Regions from separate parts of the Homo sapiens genome. Here region 2 is linked to region 1. Evidence: fine-mapped expression QTL. A gene starts in region 1. The other region holds a variant in brackets. All regions are shown on one strand. Distances are from middle to middle.

Region 1 (4,393 bases):
TAAAAATATATATATATATTGCCCATGACACAGACCTCAGGAGATCCTGAGAACATGTGCCCGATCCAGTGTTTTATTTGCACAGACACCCTAAAGGGCACCAGCAGTACAAGGCTGATGAAATAACTTATGGCATAGTCGTACAACGGAATACTATACAGTTCTACGAAAGGAGGAAGAGGCTCTATGTACTGATATGGAAAAATCTCCACTGATTATGTACGCTGTGCAGAACAGTACGTTATGTTATCTTTTCTACAAAAAGGAGAAAATAATATATATGTATTTACTTGTGTATATTTAAAGAAATTCTGGAAAGATGTATACAAATTTGATAACAGTGGCCAGGTTTTGAGGTTTTAAAAAATGTTTCTGCTTTTTGTTTTGAAGAGGCGGGAACTAAATTGACAGGAGACTGAGACTTTTCACTTTACGCTTTTAAAATATTTGAACATAATAACGTTCAGATCGTGAATGTATTCCATAAAGAATGAGATAAGCTGAATTTTAAAAATAAGTGGCATGGGCTGGGCGCGGTGGCTCTCGCCCGTAATCCCAGCACTTTGGGAGGCCGAGGCGGGTGGATTGCCTGAGCTCAGAAGTTCGAGACCAGCCTGGGCAACAGGGTGAAACCCCGTCGCTACTAAAACACAAAAAATCAGCTGGGCGTGGCAGCGTGCGCCTGTATAATCCCAGCTACTCCGGAGGCTGAGACAGGAGAATCGCTTGAACACGGGAGGTGGAGGTTGCAGTGAGCCAAGAGCATGCCACTGCACTCCAGCCTGGGTGACAGAGCAAGACTCCGTCTCAAAAAAAAAAAAAAAAAAGACGTGTAATTTTTATGAGCATGAATTGCATGGATCAAATGTGTTATGAGTTAAAATGCAATATTCAAGACACTGAAAACAAAATTTCCAGTATACTTCCAAATTCCTGAGAAAAATTTCAAAAGTTCTAAATAATTGGAAGTATATACCATGCTCATTCATTGGAAGACTCAATATTTTTATAGCAAAGTAAAAAAAGAACATACAGCTATACATACATAACATGGAAAGATCTCACAGATAAAATGTTGGTCAAAAGAAGGCAGACAAAAGCGTAGGTACTGAATTATTATTTATATGAAAGTCAAGAACAGTTAAACTAATTTATAGTGATAGAGATGAACCCAAGCAATGACCTTTGTAAAGTATTGCCTGGGAAGGACCATAAGGAAGCCCTTCTGGGGTGTCGATAATATCCAGCCCCCACCCACCCCCTGCAGCCTCGACTGCAGTGAACTATGCTCAAAGGATCCTTCCGGCTCAACCTCTCCTTACTCCAGCATTTTGAAGTTTAGTCGAGCATGGTGTCGCGCACCTGTATTCCCAGCTGCTGGGGAGGTTAAGGCAGAGGACTGCTTGAACTATGATGGCGCCACTGCACTCCAGCCTGGGCGACAGAGCAAGACCCTGCCTCAAAACAAAACAAAAAATTCTTTATTTTGATCTGGGTGGTAGTTTCATGAGTGTATGCATGTGCAAAAATTCATAGAATGTGTTTGGTGCACTTATATTGTGCATGTTATGTATCTCGAGTTTTTAAGCAATGAGAAACCATTGTAAGATTAAAAGGTGAATGACATGATCCGATTTATGTTTTAAAAATAGATTTTTACCAGGAACGGAAGCCAGAAGACCAGTTAAAAGGCTATCGCATGGCTGGCCAGGCGTGCACGCCTGTAATTCCAGCTACGTGGAAGGCTGAGAGGCAGGAGAATCGCTTGAACCCGGGAGGCGGAGGTTGCAGTGAGCCGAGATCGCCCCACTGCACTCCAGCCTGGGCAACAAGAGAGAAACTCCGTCTCAAAAAAATAAAAAATAAAATAATAATAATTAAAAAAAAAGGTATCGCATGGTGCTAGGTAGAAGGGACGGTGGAAAGGGGGCAGAAGAGGACGCATTGGACAGAGGTGTGGGAGCAGAATCTGCAGGGTATAGAGAGCTAGAGGGAAGTGTCAAAAATAACTTTTGGGGTTTCCACCATAGGAAATGGAAGACGAGCAGCACAAGACTGGCAGGAAAGAAAATGAAGACTAAAACTTGTGGAAGTAGAGATTTGGGGAAAGAGCAGTTGGGAGAGAGCTAAGGAATTTCCTTAAGTGGGAGGCGAGGTCCGGCGGGAACAGTTGAGGCAGGGCCTGAGAAGGGTGCCCAGTGAGTGCGAGTATGAATGGATAGGGGCATCCGGGATTAAGAGGAGAGGCTGGAGTTTCCCCAGGAGTGGTGAAGTGCCTCGAAGGAGGCGGGAGATCCCTAAGGAATACTCTTGGCGATCGGGGCAGAATCGCAGGCACTAACAGTAGGCATCGGGATAAGACTGGCAGGACTAAGATGCCAGCCAGGCTCCGCCCCGGAGGCTTGGAAGTGCGGGACACCGAGAGCAGGGATGCCGGGACAGCCGGCCCGATCCCCGGTGCGGAACCAATTGTGACGACGGCTAGGTTACCCGCCGGCGCTACAAAGGTGCCACACCGGAGGGGCGGCGTGCGCCGGCGTGCGCCGGCGTGACGCGGCTACGCGGGATGGGCCGGGCCAGGGCCAAGGCCGAGGCGGCAGCGGCTGCGAGAGGCGGCGGCACGACGACGGTCCCTCAGCCCAGCCACCATGAGCACCAAGCAGATCACTTGCAGGTCAGTGCGCTGGAGCCAGGAGCTTCGGGCCGCTCCCCCAGGCCGCAGGGGGGCCGGTGCGCGCCAGTGCTGTGGTCCGGGAACCTGAGGCTAGAGCGGGACTCGGAAAGTTACTCGGCTGTTCGCGGCGGGGCTTTGCGAGGCAGAGCGAGCGCTGCCGCCACAGCCGGGGATCCGGGGGATGCGTGGCCGAGACGCTGGGCGAGGCCAGCGCGGGGGGCTACGCCCCGAGTTTGAAGCGTGGCCCCTGTGGGCTGGGAGGAAGGACGTCCTAGCCAGGGCCGTGCAGGATGCCGGGGCGCTGTCGGGAAGGCTCTGGGGCTTACGCTTTAACTGGAAAAGATTTGAAGTTGAGTAAAGGGACGCCGAGAGGACGGTTACAAATGGGGATACCACATAGGAGTAATTTGTTAATCGATTATGAGGGCCTCAAAGTTTGGAGAATCCAGATGCAATCTAAACTTGCAGAGAGTTAACAAGTAAAAGTTGTTGTGTGGAAAATAACGACAGGTAGCATATTGTGAATATCGGCGAAGCGCCCTGCATATTTCCAAGTCCTTTATATTCATTATCATCAGACTTCACAGTAAGACAACTTAGTAGTTATTATTACCATTTTACAGTGCAGGAAACTGAGACCGAAAGACGTTGACACTCATTTATCTTACTGAGAGAGCCATTTACGAGGAGAAATGCGACGGTAATGGATGGTTTATTGTAGAAAATAGCCAGATAGCTACACTACGACTGCTCCTATGAAATAGAATAGTGTGGTTGTGTAACACCCTCATTGCTTGGTCAGCTTGTGGCTTACTGGTAATGGAGTCTAGTCCTATTGAATTGTATGTTTGGAAAACGCAAATTGAATTGTATGCTTGGAAAATGCAAATTTCATTTAATAATTTTTATGGGAAACATTGCTTAAAAACAGTTATAGAGTTTGTGTAATAAACAGTTTATTTTCTATGTTGTTACTTCTCTTCATTGGTATGAATAGTTGAGACGTGACTGTGTAGTAAGTTTTCTGTTAGCATTAGTGTACATTTACTGTTCAATTTATCCAAGGCCCAGGTGGCTTATGTTAAGCTGTTGTCAGAAATTTGCACCTAGTGTCTATAAAAAGACTTTTACTAGGTTATTTGTACTAGAAGGTGTTTTGTGAAGACGGGTTTGTGTGTGTTTACGTATTTTTATTTGTATAAAGTTTCTCCTGCTGGAGGAAGTATTCCTAGGTCATTGTGCACTGTAAAGCAGCTTGTAGCCTCCTAGAAAAACCTCTGTATTCCTCCCCTCGCTCTATGGTTTAATTCTACCATTTATTCCCGTACCTCATCTAAGAAGTGTCCACAAAACAGTACACATTTATGTAATAATGCTTTATAATTGAATCTCAACTCTGTAGTATCTTATTTTACAAATAAGGAATCTTATGCTCAGAAAGACTTGAAATTTGCCTAAAATTTTACACCTTAGTAGAGGCACAAGGACCTAAATCAGGATCATCTTGGTTTTTTCCTTGTATACCTGGAGATAGCTTGACTTGAAAGCTTTAATTCTGTTTCCCAAACAGGGGTGTTCTGTAGGATGTTGCTCCATATAAATGAAGATTGGGTTGGAATGTTGAGAAGGGATCACTTCTGTTTAAGTGTTTAGTCATGTTTGTTGGGGACTTACAATGTGCTGCGGCTCTTAGGTACTGTAGTGTATAATCCAGCAACC
Region 2 (4,393 bases), 130 kb after region 1:
TTTGAGACGGAGTCTGGCTCTGTTGCCCAGGCTGGTATGCAGTGGCTCCATCTGAGCTCATTGCAACCTCCGCCTCCTGGCTTCAAAGGATTCTCCTGCCTCAGCCTCCCGCGTAGCTGGGATTACAGGCACATGCCACCACGCCCGGCTAATTTTTGTATTTTTAGTAGAGACGGGATTTCACCATATTGGTCAGGCTGGTCTGGAACTCCTGACCTCCTGATCTGCCCTCTTTTGCCTCCCAAAGTGCTGTGATTACAGGCTTGAGCCACCGCACCTGGCCCATCACCATTTTTTAATACCTATTTTGGAATTTCTACATTTAAAAAAAATACCAGGAAATTCCGGGGGTGGTGGCTCACGCCTGTAATCCCAGCACTTTGGGAGGCCGAGGCGGGTGGATCACTTGAGGTCAGGAGTTCGAGACCAGCTTGGCCAACATGGTGAAACTTCATCTCTATTAAAAATACAAAAAATTAGCCTGGCGTGGTGGTGTACTCCTGTAGTCTCAGCTACTTGGGAGGGTGAGGCAGGAGAATCACTTGAACCTGGGAGGCAGAGTTTGCAATGAGCCAAGATTGCACCACAGCACTCCAGTCTGGGCAACAGGGCAAGACTCCATCTCTAAAAAAAAAATAAAAAATAAAAAAAAATCTCAGGAGCTTCAAAAAAATGTAATGGCTTAGGTCTTTCTTAGTCTCTGGGATAAGGGCCTTATTATGGTATATTCTACCGCCCCCATCCCGCAGCGTGTAGTACTGAGCATATAGTTGGTGCTTAATGTATACTTATTTCACTGTTAGCTAAGACAGAAGAGAAACTGTGGCTTTAGCCTTAAGATGAACCTTAAAGGAACAAGGCTTATTGGATGACTAACACTTTAATTTCTGGTTATTTCATTGTCACCACATCCAGTCTAAAATTGATACAGTTTCCTTCATTGGCTCACATTGGCTGGCTCCAAAGGGAGAATGAAAGCCAGATAATCAGGACCAAAGATGTGCTTGTGTTGTTTTGTTTTGCTGAAATGATATGGACAATCCTGTCAGTTCTCCCTTTCACTCTCCATTATCTACAGTTCACCCTCATGCTGGAGGCCACACCAGCTACTGGTGATGTAGAGATGCCCAGCAGAGTCCCTGCCCTTGAGGGCCTCATTGTGCAGTGTGGAGAAGAACAAATGAATTACAGGCCCAGGCAAGGCTTTGAAACATAGTAGTCTATCTACGTGTCAGTGTTCCTTGGAGAGGGAATGACTGGATAAGTGGGAAGGGAGGGCCTCCTGGAGGAGGAGTGTGTTCAGGAATGAAATCAAAAGTGAAATTCTCCAAGGGAAGGAGATGAGGAAAGACAGGCAGAAGAAACAGGGCAAGTAAAGATACACACAGAGGCAGGAGTTGGCACTCTTCATGGTAGCCAAGATGACTGCCTGTGATCCCCACTTCCTGTATTCACAGCTTGTGAAATTCCCTGCCATATTTTGTCAGGGTTGGTCTGCATGACCAATAGAATACCACAGAAGTGGTGTTGTGTCACTTCCAAGGCTAGTTCTAAAAGACTGTGTGCAATGCTGCCAAAAAAAAAAAAGGAACTTCACCCAAGATTTTTTCCTGTTTCTTCTATCTTCTATCTCTTTCTTTTTTGGATCATTTGTGCTGAAGGAAGTCACAGGCAGTCCTACAGAGAGACCCACATGATGAGGAACTGAGTCCGCTTGCCAATAGTCACACAAGCAGATTCTTCAAGCCCATCAAGCCTTCAGATACCATGGTCCCCACTGACTGCAACCTCAGCTTTTATTTTTTGACTATGACCTCATGAGAGACCTTGAGCCAGAGCCACCAGCTAAGCCCCTGCTGAATTGAACTCTCATAATCTGCATGAGATAGTAAATGCTTGTCTTAGCTGCTGAGTTTTAGAATAATTTGTTACACAGCAATAGATCACTTATACAGTGTGTGTGTGCAAGAAAATGTAAGTAGTTTGGTTTGTTGAGTGCCTAAGTTTGGTGAAATACAGGCCCAGTGGAAGGGGCTGGGAAGCACCTGGGTTATCCATCTCAGGCCCCATGCCTCAATTGAAGTAGTCGGTTACAGAGGACTTCATTGTTTGCCTTTTCTTCTTATCCTAAGAAACGTTTGGGGACCCACTTCTCCCCTACTCTCAGACCCTGCTATTTGGCTGGGACTCTCCCCTGGTGCCAGGAATGAAAGCTGTGACTCAGGCACAGGCCACTGTGATTGGTTGAGGGATGGAGACATGACTCAACGGATCCAATCACAGTGAGTCTCAGGTTTTAGAGGAAGCTTCCAAATAAGCCTTCTGGGCTTTCCCATGGACTTGAACTGGGAGGGGAGGAAAGGCTGGAGCTGTGTCTGCCACTTTTTTTTTTTTTTTTTTTTTTTTTGAGATGGAGTCTCGCTCTGTCACCCAGGCTGGAGTGCAGTGGTGCCATTTCGGCTCACTGCAACCTCCCTCCCAGGTACAAGTGATTCTCCTGTCTCAGCCTCCCGAGTAGCTGGGATTACAGGTGCACGCCACCATTCCCAGCTAATTTTTTGTATTTTGGTAGAGACAGGGTTTCACCGTTTTATCCAGGCTGGTCTCCAACTCCTGAGCTCAGAGAATCCACCCACCTCGGCCTCCCAAAGTGCTAGAATTACAGGCGTGAGCCACTGCGCCCGGCCCTCAGCCACCTTTATACAATGAGAGCAGAGCCTGGGTCGGGAGCGGTGGCCCA[C/T]GCCTGTAATCCCAGTACTTTGGGAGGCCGAGGCGGGCGGATCACGAGGTCAGGAGATCCAGACCATCCTGGCTAACACGGTGAAACCCCGTCTCTACTAAAAAAAAAAAATACAAAAAAAAAAAGAGGAAAAAAAAAAAAAAGCCGGGCGTGGTGGCGGGCGCCTGCAGTCCCAGCAACTTGGGAGGCTGAGGCAGGAGAATGGCGTGAACCCGGGAGGCGGAGCTTGCAGTGAGCCGAGATCGCACGACTGCACTCCAGCCTGGGCGACAGAGCGAGACTGTGTCTCAAAAAAAAAAAAAAAAACAACAGAGCCTGGAGTTCACAGGGCCCGAGAATGGATTCCGCGGGGTCCTTCAACCTCTGTTGAGCACTGAAACCAGCCAGACCTCCAACAGCCAGACCTGGGCTTTTCAGTTCCATGCAGATTACATTCCCCCTTTTTGTACTTAAAACAATTAAGTTAGTTTTTCTATCGCCGATAGCAGAGCCCTAATAGATGCCCCGGCCGTTAGCTGTTGATTTTCTCTCCGGAAACTGAATATTGACATTCAGTGAAGCTCATGTCTTCTCCTTCTGAAGAGCGTTCCCTTCAGACCACATGTGGAAATCACTGGGAGTTATGCACACGCTTTCAGGAGGAGGGAGTCTATGAACTGAAGGAGTGTTCCGAGCCCCAAAGACCAATGGGTGTAAAAGGCTGCCCACTGCCTTTAGTCTTTCTTCCGCTATTCATTCCTCAGGTGGCTTGCTTTGCCCCACAGCCTCTGAGGCTGTTGTGGATTCACAGGGGTTCACGTTGGAGAGGCTTCATCAGACCAGATTCAGTACATTGTGAGAACTCTGGAATTATTATTTTTATTTTATTATTACTATATTTTATCTGACTAGAAGCCATTTATTACCAAACCAATTTATTTCTTAGAGTTGAAAACCGTCTGTGAGAAGCTTCTCTGGCCTGGATGGAGATCCAGCTCTTTTTTTTTTTTTTTGAGACAGAGTCTTGTTCTGTCGCCAGGCAGGAGTGCAGTGGCACGATCTCTGCTTACTGCAACCTCCACCTCCTGGGTTCAAGCAATTCTCCTGCCTCAGCCTCCCGAGTAGCTGGGACTACAGTCGCACATTTCCACGCCCGGATAATTTTTTGTTCGTTTGTTTGTTTGCGTTTTAGTAGAGATGGGGTTTCACCATGTTGCCCAGGCTGGTCTCGAACTCCTGAGCTCAGGTAATCTGCCCGCCTCGGCCTCCCAAAGTGTTAGGATTACAGGTGTGAGCCACCGCGCCCGGCTGGTTTTTTGTTTGTTTGTTTGTTTGTTTGAGACGGAGTCTCGCTCTGTCACCCAGGCTGGAGTGCAGTGGCGCGATCTTGGCTCACCGCAAACTCCGCCTCCCGAGTTCAAGTGATTCTCCTGCCCCAGCCTCCCAAGTAGCTGGGACTACAGGCATCCGCCATCACGCCTGGCTAATTTTTTGTATTTTTAGTAGAGACAGGGTTTCACCATGTTAGCCAGGATGGTCTCGATCTCTTGACCTCGTGATCCGCCTGCCTCGACCTCCCAAAGTGCTGGGATTACAGGTGTCAGCCACCATACCTGGCAGGTAGTTTATTTTTTTGGAGACAGAGTTTCGCTCTATCACCCAGGCTGGAGTGCA

The links. PIP is the estimated chance that this variant, and not a neighbour inherited with it, causes the effect.
Region 2: its variant is the best candidate, but not a certain one, in a credible set for the expression of MKRN2 in tibial artery (GTEx, PIP 0.56).

The regions. Positions count from the first base shown.
Region 1 is chr3:12,554,503-12,558,895 of GRCh38, forward strand. It overlaps MKRN2 (makorin ring finger protein 2), which reads left to right and starts at 2,585. Exons shown (of 8, transcript NM_014160.5): 1 at 2,585-2,674. The coding sequence starts at 2,649. It also overlaps a transcript of MKRN2OS not described here. RefSeq lists enhancers at 2,205-2,314, 2,365-2,424, 2,812-3,335, 3,245-3,304 and a silencer at 2,595-2,684.
Region 2 is chr3:12,680,534-12,684,926 of GRCh38, forward strand. No RefSeq gene overlaps it. Among named protein-coding and RNA genes, the nearest start is that of RAF1, 19 kb to the left of the region's middle. The variant C/T (reference allele first, on the strand shown) is at 2,741.